2 separate regions of the Homo sapiens genome follow, and region 1 is linked to region 2. Evidence: fine-mapped expression QTL. A gene starts in region 2. The other region holds a variant in brackets. All regions are shown on one strand. Distances are from middle to middle.

Region 1 (5,377 bases), 29 kb before region 2:
TGATGCCACCATCGCTTTCTTTCTGTTCTATGACATCTTTCTAGTCTTACCTTACTATTTCCTTGGCTCTCAGTTGGTTTTTCCTGAGTTCTCAGAAATTGAAATAATACACACTTTGTAGAAATAAGAATTTCATGTTAGTCAAGTCTCTAGGATAGCCATGGGCTCCACTTAATTATCTCAGAACTTACAGCCCCATGTCCTCTGCTCACTATCCATTGAGATTTATGTGTTCTCAGACTTCACAGAAACTTTTCTAGCTACTTATGTCATTCTCAGTGGTAACTTCATTTATCCACAATATTAACTAATTTTCTCAGTCCAAGCTGTTTTCCAGAGGTAATCTCCAGTCCCCATGCCGAAACTATCATTGTACTTACTGCTGAAATGATAGTTCCTTCCCAGCAAGAAGGTGAGATTATTGTACCCAGAATCTTTTCTCAGGGTTCAAATATCCACTTTCCCCATGGCAGGAATGCTGACACTCCAGCCACGGTTTTGTAAATGTGAATTAGTAAATACCAACTATTCCCAGGTGAGTGTTGTGGGCAGCAAGCTACCCAGGTGCTGAGGCAAGAGACCGAGGGCATGAGCCATTCCAGTATAATAAAATATATAAAACAACAAGAGTTATACTAGATCTAGATCATAGATGTAATTATATATGAATATCATTAATCATTAGTTTGTAGCAATTACTCTTTATTCCAGTATTATAATAATACTCGCTCTATAATCATAACCTAGAAAAAACCAGGCCATACAGAGATAGGAGCTGAGGGGACACAGTGAGAAGTGACCAGAAGACAAGAGTGCGAGCCTTCTGTTATGTCCAGACAGGGCCACCAGAGGGCTCCTTGGTCTAGCGGTGATGCCAGCATCTGGGAAGTCTGGTCTAGCGGTAGCCTTAGTGTCAAGGAAAAACAACCGCTACTTAGCGGACCGGGAAAGGGAGTCTCCCTTTTCCCCGGGGGGAGTTTAGAGAAGACTCTGCTCCTCCGTCTCTTGTGGAGGGCCTGACATCAGTCAGGCCCACCCGCAGTTATCCGGAGGCCTAACCATCTCCCTGTGATGCTGTGCTTCAGTGGTCACGCTCCTAGTCCACCTTCATGTTCCATCCTGTACACCTGGCTCTGCCTTCTAGATAACAGTAGCAAAATTAGTGAAAGTACTAAAAGTCTCTGATATGCAGAAATAATGGTGTAAGCTGTCTCTCTCTCTCCCTCTCTCTCTCTGCCTTGGCTGCCAGGCAGAGAAGGGCCCCGCGTCCAGTGGACACATGACCCACATGACCTTACCTATCATTGGAGATGACTCACACTCTTTGCCCTGCCTCTTTTGCTTTGTATCCAATAAATAACAGTGCAGCTAGACATTCAGGGCCACTACCAGTCTCCGCGCATTGGTGGTAGTGGTCCCCCGGGCCCAGCTGCCTTTTCTCTTATCTCTTTGTCTTGTGTCTTTATTTCTACACTCTCTCGTCACCGCACACAGGGAGAGACCCACCGACCCTGTGGGGCTGGTCCCTACAGAGTGTTACAATCAGAAGGAACCAGTTCTGCTCTGAGGTTGAGACATACTCTGAGGGACCTGGAGACATGGTGCAACCTCCTCTCCTTGCCTTATGCCTCTCCTCTATATTTCCTCTGAAACCTTCTTTGAATATTCTTCCTTCCATTACTGACTGAAAATATTAAGCCTCACAAAGTCCACTGTAAGATCTTTACCAGTGGGAAATGAAGAAGACTGTTTAAAGTATTTGAGTGGCCATTTAGTGTCTTTATAACATTTTTTGGTTATGCATTTTTGTCTTTTTGGGGGCATGATTTGCAAATTGAGTCTCTGGTATTTTACTAACTTGTGTTTGATGAGTGAAAGAGTTAATACTTCCTCTCCCATTAGTGAAAGGAAAGACACTTCAGAAACATGAATAAAAGATTGTAAATTGGAAATAGTAAGGTAATCAGATATGTAAAGAATCTAGGCCAGGCGTGGTGGCTCACGCCTGTAATCCCAGCATGTCAAGTGATTCTCCTGCCTCCACCTCTCTAGTAGCTGGAATTACAGGCACCTGCCACTACGCCCAGTGAATTTTTGTATTTTTAGTAGAGACAAGGTTTCACCATGTTGGTCATGCTGGTCTAGAACTCCTGACCTCTGGTGATCCACCCACCTCGGCCTCCCAAAGTGCTGAGATTACAGGCATGAGCCACAGCGCCCAGCTTCCTGACATCGCTTAATGCATAATCTCTTCACAGGGTATTTCCAAAGTCCAAGGGCTCTTTCATAACACCTACAACTGGTTCCATCAGAAATGTTTAAAGCATAACAAAATATGTTATCATCGTCCATTTTTTCTATTGTCTCAAAAATATCTTTGTTCTTTAAGCAGCTTCATTGCAATGAAATTCCCAAATGTGGGCGTGGTGGCTCACGCCTGTGGTCCCAGCACTTT[G/A]GGAGGCTGAGGCGGGTGGATCATCTGAGGTTGGGATTTTGAGACCAGCCTGGCCAACATGGTGAAACTCTGTCTCTACTAAATACAAAAATTAAAAAAAAAAAAGAAAGAAATTCCCAAATTTATCCCCATGACTTTTAGTAGTTCTGTCTCATATATCTCTATTAATCTACAGGTATGACTTTCCTTTTTAAAATTCCTTTTTTGTGCGGGGTGTGGGACAGGGTCTTACTCTGTCACCCAGGCTGGAGTGCTGTGACACAATTACAGCTAACTGCAGCCTGGACCTCCCTGGGCTAGGTGATCCTCCCACCTCTGCCTCCCAAGTAGCTGGGACTACAGGCAAGCACCACCATGCCTGGCTAAGCTTTTATTTTTTATTTTTTGTAGAGACTGGGTTTCACAATGTTGCCCAGGCTGGTCTCAGACTCCTGGGCTCAAGCAATCCACCTGCTTTGGCCTCCCAAAGTGCTGGGATTACATACATAACCACAATGCCTGGCCTTAAATTTTATTTTATTTTTTTATTTTTTTTGAGACGGAGTCTCTCTCTGTCACCCAGGCTGGAGTGCAATGGTGCAATCTTGGCTCACTGCAACCTCCGCCTCTCAGGTTTAAGCAGTTCTCTGCCACAGCCTCCCAAGTAGCTGGGATTACAGGCGCCCACCACCACGCCCGGCTAATTTTTGTATTTTTAGTAGAGACGGGGTTTCACCATCTTGGCCAGGCTGGTCTTGAACTCCTGACCTCATGATCCACCCGTCTTGGCCTCCAAAAGTGCTGGGATTAGAGGCGTGAGCCACCGCGCCTGGCCAAAATTTTATTTATTTCTTGAAATTGTGTAATTTTTGTATTAGAATTTATTATACTCTAATTTTTTGTGCATATCTCTGATATGATTTAAGTTGTTTACACATGTATAAGCCATAAGCAAACTAGATATTCTTGAAATGGGTGATTCAGGGGTAGTCCCACATAAGTGTGTGATTATGACACAGCCAGAAACACACAGTTGGATTACATTCTCCCAGCATGCTGTGGTACAGTCTGGAAGCAAAAATTTCAAAGAGTGTATGCTCCTGGTGTGTGACAAGTGCCTGAGGGTTATACTGCAGCACAGCCTATAGACAAAACACATATCCCAGGGACCCTGTGTGACAGGTGTGCAGTATTTAAAGACCTCAGTCCGGCAGGGCACGGTGGCTCACGCCTGTAATCCCAACGCTTTGGGAGGCCGAGGTGGGTGGATCACGAGGTCAAGAGTTTGAGACCAGCCTGGCCAACATGGAGAAATCCTGTCTTTACTAAAAATACAAAAATTAGCCATGGGTTGCGCTCACCTGTAGTCCGAGCTATGCGGGAGGCTGATACAGGAGAGTTGCTTGAACCAGGGAGGCGGAGGTTGCAGTGAGCCAAGATCATGCCACCACAGTCCAGTCTGGGGAAAAGAGTGACCCTGTCTCAAAAAAAAAAAAAAAAATCTCAGTCCATCCTAGAGGTGCCCCTGTTATACCTATAGGACTCTGTGTAAGAGGCATTGGGTACTGGCACCTATTGACAGCCTGAGCCGACATAAATATATACCACACTGACAACAAACCCAAGAGGGAGAGATGTGATCCACACAACCAGCATATTCAGAACCCCAAGGGGCTGTTAGACAGAATGGAGGTGGGGTCATACTGGCCACACAGAAGCACAAATGCTACTCAGAGACTTGGGCTTTTAAATTTGCTGATTACAAAGGTTTAGTGGGAGCATAAGCAGGGTATAATCAAGAAAATTTTACTCCACAATAGATAGAAATATACCTTCCAGTGTGTGTAGTCATAATATAATTGGAACACACAATTTTAAACTTCTAGACATTACTGTAGAGTCCTATGTTGATTAAGAATCATCACAGATATTTCTAGAAAGAAGAAAGCAAAATATTACTGATAGTGAAGATGAAATATGCCTATATAACTTGCTGTCATGCAAGGTAACATTTAGGTATTGAGATTCTTTACATCCCTGATTACATTGCCATTTGTAATTTATAATCTTTTATTTACATTTCTAAAGCATCTTGCTTTTATGTGCCTATATATCATGCTGTCATACAAGATAACATTTAGAGGCCAGGCATGGTGGCTCATGCCTGTAATCCCAGAACATTGGGAGGCTGAGGCAGGTGGATCACCTGAGATCAGGAGTTTGAGACCAGCCTGACCAACATGGAGAAGCCCTGTCTCTACTAAAAATACAAAGTTAGCCAGCTACTAGGGAGGCTGAGGCAGGAGAATCACTTGAATCCAGGAGGCAGAGGTTGCAGTGAGCTGACATGGTGCTATTGCACTCCAGCCTGACAACAAGAGCAAGAAACTCCGTCTCAAAAATAACAAAAATGAGAGATATCAGGATTATAAGTAAAACAGCATAGTAATACACTTAAGAATAGATAATCGGTCAGATGTGGTGGCTCATGCCTGTAATCCCTGCACTTTGGAGAGCCGAGGTGGATGGATCACCTGAGGTTGGGAGTTGGAGACCAGCCTGACCCTTTTTTTTTTCTAGTAGAGACAGGAGAAACCCTATCTCTACTAAAAAAAAAAAAAAAAAAAAAAAAACACACACAACCAAATTAGCCGGGCGTGGTGGCACATGCCTATAATTCCATCTACTCGGGAGGCTGAGGCAGGAGAATTGCTTGAACCTGGGAGGCAGAGGTTGTGTTGAGCCAGGATTGTGCCATAGCACTTCACGCTGGGCAGCAAGAGCAAAACTCCGTCTCAAAGAAAAAAAAAAAAAAAAAATTAGCCGGGCGTAATGGCACTGTAATCCCAGCTGCTTGGGAGGCTGAGCCCTGAGAATTGCTTGAACCCAGGAGGTGGAGGTTGCAGTAAGCTGAGATTGCCTCACTGCACTCCAGCCTGGGCG
Region 2 (5,377 bases):
AATAAAGTTTACACTAAATATCCAATTTAATTTATACAAAGCATAATCCAAGAAAGCTTTTTTTTTTTTTTTTTTTTGAAACGGAGCCTCACTCTGTCCTCTGTCACCCCGGCTGGAGTGCAGTGGCGCGATCTTGGCTCACTGCAGCCTCCGCCTCCTGGGTTCAAGTGATTCTCCTGCCTCAGCCTCCTGAGTAGCTGGGATTACAGGCATGCGCCACCACACCCAGCTAATTTTTCTATTTTCAGTAGAGACGGGGTTTCACTATGTTGGTGAGGCTGGTCTCGAATTCCTGACCTCGTGATCCGCCCACCTCTGCCTCCCAAAGTCCTGGGATTACAGGCATGAGCCACCGCACCCGGCCAACTTTTTTGTTTGTTTGTTTGTTTGTTTGTTTGAGACGGAGTCTCGCTCTGTCCCCCAGCCTGGAGTGCAGTGGCGTGATCTCGGCTCACTGCAACCTCCGCCTCCCGGGTTCAAGCCATTCTCCTGCCTCAGGCTCCGGAGTAGCTGGGACTACAGGCGCCTGCCACCACGCCCAGCTAATTTTTTTGTATTTTTAGTAGAGACGGGGTTTCATCATATTAGCCAGGATGGTCTCGATCTCCTGACCTCGTGATCCGCCCGCCTCGGCCTCCCAAAGTGCTGGGATTACAGGTGTGAGCCACCGCGCCCAGCCAACTTTTTTTTTAAGTATAGAAAATTTTACAGGTTGGGCGCGGTGGCAGGCGCCTATAATCCCAGCTGCTCGGGGGGCTGAGACAGGAAAATCACTTGAACTTGGCCAAGAGGCGGAGGTTGCAGTGAGCCGAGATCGCAGCAATGCACTCCAGCCTGGGTGACAGAGCGAGACTCCATCTCAAAAAAAAAAAAAAAAAAAGAGGTGGAGATTTCCCAGAACTGAGGTTCCCTCCCCTTTTTAGACTATATAGGGTAACTTCCAAACATTGCCAGGGCATTGGTATACTGTCATGGCGCTGGCGGGAGTTAGTATGCTAATGCATTATAATTAGCGTATAATGAGCAGTGAGGATGACCACAGGTCACTTTCATCACCATCTTGGTTTTGGTGCGTTTTAGCCAGCTTCTTTACTGCATCCTGTTTTATCAGCAGGGTCTTTGTGACCTGCATCTTGTGCCAACCTCCTATCTCATCCTGTGACTAAGAATGCCTAACCTGGGAATGCAGCCGAGTATTTCTCAGCCTTACTTTATCCAGCCCATTTTCAAGATGGAGTCACTCTGATTCCAATGCCACTGACAATGATAAGCACTTGCCAGCAAAGAGGTGAACGCATGGATTTAAGGCACTTGAAATATCTCAGTGTAAAAGCACCCTGTGCATGTAGCAGGACGAGCCGCAGACAAAACCTCTCAGACACCGAGTTGCAGAAGGAAGGGCTTTATTCAGCTGGGAGCATTGGCCAGCTACTGTCTCAAAATCTGAGCTCCCGGAGTGCACAATTTCTGTCCCTTTTAAGGGCTCACAACACTAAAGATTTCACATGAAAGGGTCGTGATTGATTTGAGCAAGCAAGGGGTATGTGACAGGGGCTGCATGCACCGGTGGTCAGGGAGGAACAGAACAGGGCAGGGAGTTTCACAATGTTCTTCTATACAATCTAAGGAATCTATGAATAACATCGGCTTCTAAATCATAAGTTGATTTTTAACTACTGGGTTTAGGCCAGGCGGGCCTAGGCCTGGTTTCGGGCCTGGCGCGGGGTTGCCTGTCTTTGGTTTTACTTCCTTGTTGTTTTTACTGAATATAAAACAATGTGAGAGGGTCTCTCTCTTCTCTCATGCATACATACTCCATGTTTGAACACCGCAGCCATTGTCCTGTAACATAATAGCATTTGTCTCATTAGCTTTTTGATGTTGATATCAGATTTCTAGAGGAATCTGTAGGTTAAAGATATAAATAAAAGTGTTGCTAATGGGCTGAGAACGGTGGTTCACGCCTGTAATCCTAGCACTTCGGTAGACCATTGCAGGCAGATCACTTGAGGCCAGAAGTTCGAGACCAGCCTGGCCAAAATGAGGAAACCCCGTCTCTACTAAAAATACAAAAATTAGCAGGGTATGGTGGCACACGCCTGTAATCCCAGCTACTCGGATGGTTGAGGCACGAGAATCGCTTGAACCCGGGAGGCATAGGCTGCAGTGAGCCAAGATCACACCACTGCACCCCAGCCTGAGTGACAGAGAGAACTATGTCTTAAAAAAAAGACAAAAAAAAAAAAAAAAGGAAGAAGCCGAGCATCACAAATTCTGAAATAAGAAGTCTCCAAACACGCGGGCAATCAGTTGCACACAGTACCCCCAGAAATGTGCGTATGGCCTCTTCTAAGATGGGAGACCCTCCTCCGCATCTGGACCTGGAGTCGCCATTTCCTAGCGCCCCTCGCAGTGGAGCTTGCCCCTTTCTTCGGAAAGTCGGAAGAAAGCCACCTTAAGCGCTGCCCATGTCTGGGAACTACATTACCCAGAATCCGCCCTGCGAAATGGTAACGTGGCTGAGCCAATGAAGCTTCAGAGAAGCCGTGCCATTGCCGGGGCACGTAAAGTCAAGCCAGGACTTCCGGCGTCCTAGCCGTGGCAGCCATTTTGGCCTGTCAGGTCCATCCGGCGATGCTGGGTCTGGACGAGCTCGGGAGGAGTGGTTGTGGCCATTGCACACAGGCGGATCTGAGGTTCGGCGACGCCGCTGGTCGCGACCCGGGACAGGACAACGACAGGAACACCGCCGAGCCCGCGTTCCCCCCCCGCCCAGAGTCATGGCGGCAGCAGCCGCTCTGAGGGCGCCTGCTCAGGTGAGCGCTGCGACCTCCGGGCCTTACCCACCCTACCCACCCAGACCCTGAGGCCCCTGATCGTGAGGGCCGCCTCCTCGCGTCCCTGCAGCCCAGGCCTCTGTCAGGGACGGAGAGGCGCCGGCGGGTGGGATCCCTGTTTCCGACACCCAGTTGATGCGGTCGGCAGAGCGAGACTGGCGGAGGGCAAAGGCCTGCAGGCGCGACTGAGGCAGGAGGATGCGGAACACGGGGACATCGTGTGTCTACTGGGAAAGAAGTGTGATACGGAGTTATTTCTTTTTTTTTTTTTTTTTGAGACGGAGTCTCACTCTGTCGCCCAGGCTGGAGTGCAGTGGCGCGATCTCGGCTCACTGCAAGCTCCACCTCCCCGGTTCAAGCGATTCTCCTGCCTCAGCCTCCCGAGTAGCTGGGATTACAGGCATGCGCCACCACGGGGTTTCACCATGTTGGCTAGGCTGGCCTCGAACTCCTGACCTTAGGTGATCCGCCCACCTCGGCCTCCCAAAGTGCTGGGAATACAGGCGTGAGCCACCGCGCCTGGCCGAGGCGGAGTTGTTTCTTCAGTACCAGGCTGAGGGTTGAACTTTGACTGTGAGGACGCTAAAAGCCATGGACAGTTTTGAACAAAGGAGGAAATCTGTGTTAGAGTTGCGATTCCCAAAAGATGTTCGAAGGAAGAACAGAGTTGAAGGCAGTGATGAGGACATTGAGAGGTTGAATCATTGAGAGGTGACATTGAGCACTGGGCCACAAGATTAGAGACTCAGTCTGAAGTCATCTGGCTGCAGGGCCAAAAAAAGCTTACAGAGAAGCCTGAGTCTATCAAATCCGAGCACAGACACATTTGTGAAAGCCCTGCCTTTTGGCACACCTCATGGCTACAGAAGCACTTACAGAATCCACAGTAGGAAGTAGGGGATGCTCTAGTCCTTCACTGGTCCTCATCCTATCCCACATGTCTAGATCTTGGCATCTTTTTTTTTTTTCGGCGACGGGTTCTCACTCAACACCCAGGCTGGGTTGCGGTGACGCGATCACGGCGCAGCACGGCCTCGACCTCTCCGGGCTCAGGAGAGCCTCTCATCTCAGTCTCCCGAGTAACTGGCTTTTTGTATTTTTAGTAGAGGTGGGGTTTCACGGCCGGGCGCGGTGGCTCACGCCTGTAATCCTAGCACTTTGGGAGGCCGAGGCGGGCGGATCACGAGGTCAGGAGTTTGAGACCATCCTGGCTAACACGGTGAAATCCCCCCTCTACTAAAAATACAAAAAATTAGCCAGGCCTGGTGGCACACACCTGTAGTCCCAACTACTTGGGAGGCTGAGGCAGGAGAATCGCTTGAACCCGGGAGGCAGAGGTTGCAGTGAGCCGAGATCGCGCCACTGCACTCCAGCCTGGGCGACAGAGAAAGACTCCGTCTGAAAAAAAAAAAAAAAAGAGAGAGAGAGAGATGGGGTTTCGCCATGTTGCCCAGGCTAGTCTCGAACCCTTGGGCTCAAGCAGTCCTCTTGCTTCGGCTTCCCAAAGTGCTGGGATGCCAAGCAGGAACTACCGCACCTCCTAGGACACTTAAGTGCCATTTCTCCGGTCCTTCAATCTGGGGATCTTGGAAAAACCTCAAACCCCAAACCTACATCAGTGACATAGGTTATGGGGAGTTGTTGCTATGTCTGTCAACTAATGTAACACATGTGGAGGGTTCACCCAGGAACTGATACTGGGGTGTGCAAATACTTACTTAGAAGTGAAACTAGAGGGGTGAGGTGATGTTACCAATTTCTTAATAGGCGCTGTCTGGTTACTGAGTGGGCAACAGACTGTGGGGTTGAGGGAGGAGGAAGATCAAACTGGAAGCTACTGCCCTAGTCGAGGTGAGGATTAATGGACTAGAGTTGTGGCTTAGGCAATGTGGCTAGATCTGGATTTGTGTTTTTTAGAGGGGCAAGTCAATTTTTTTTTTCCCAAGATGGAGTCTGGACCTGTTGCCCAGGCTGGAGTGCAATAGTGGAATCTTGGCTCACTGCAACCTCCGCCTCCTGAGTTCAAGCGATTCTCCTGCCTCAGCCTCCGAAGTAGCTGGGATTACAGGCGCGCGCCTCCACACCCAGCTAATTTTTGTATTTTTAGTAGAGACTAGGTTTCGCCATATTATCCAGGCTGCCTCGAACTCCTGACCTCGTGATCCACCCGCCTTGGCCTCCCAAAGTGCTGGGATTACAGGCTTGAGCCACCGTGCCCAGCCTGGCAACTCAATTTTTAAATGTGAACAGTGAGAGCTTGAGAGGATTCAGGAAACACCCCTGGGTTTTTTATCTTAGCAGCTGTAGCAATGGGAGCTGCATCAACTGAGATGAGCAAGTTGATAGCAGGTGTAATATTCACTGAGGCTATCAGGAGGTTTGTTTTGGCCATTCTGCGTGGAAAAAAATACAAATTGCTTTTGCTCTGCTCTCCCCCACAACAATCAACACAGAGTACTTCTGTGACTAGATAATGTGTGGATGGTTTTCCTCATACACCAAGTAGTTCTGCAGTGGACATCAGATCCCACAGGGTGAAG

Evidence for each region. PIP is the estimated chance that this variant, and not a neighbour inherited with it, causes the effect. A credible set is the group of variants that fine-mapping cannot tell apart.
Region 1: its variant is the best candidate, but not a certain one, in a credible set for the expression of ZNF586 in whole blood (TOPMed, PIP 0.56).

Annotation. Positions count from the first base shown.
Region 1 is chr19:57,737,674-57,743,050 of GRCh38, forward strand. No RefSeq gene overlaps it. Among named protein-coding and RNA genes, the nearest start is that of ZNF776, 6.5 kb to the right of the region's middle. The variant G/A (reference allele first, on the strand shown) is at 2,456.
Region 2 is chr19:57,767,063-57,772,439 of GRCh38, forward strand. It overlaps ZNF586 (zinc finger protein 586), which reads left to right and starts at 2,614. Exons shown (of 3, transcript NM_017652.4): 1 at 2,614-2,816. The coding sequence starts at 2,781. RefSeq lists enhancers at 2,338-2,877, 2,599-2,848.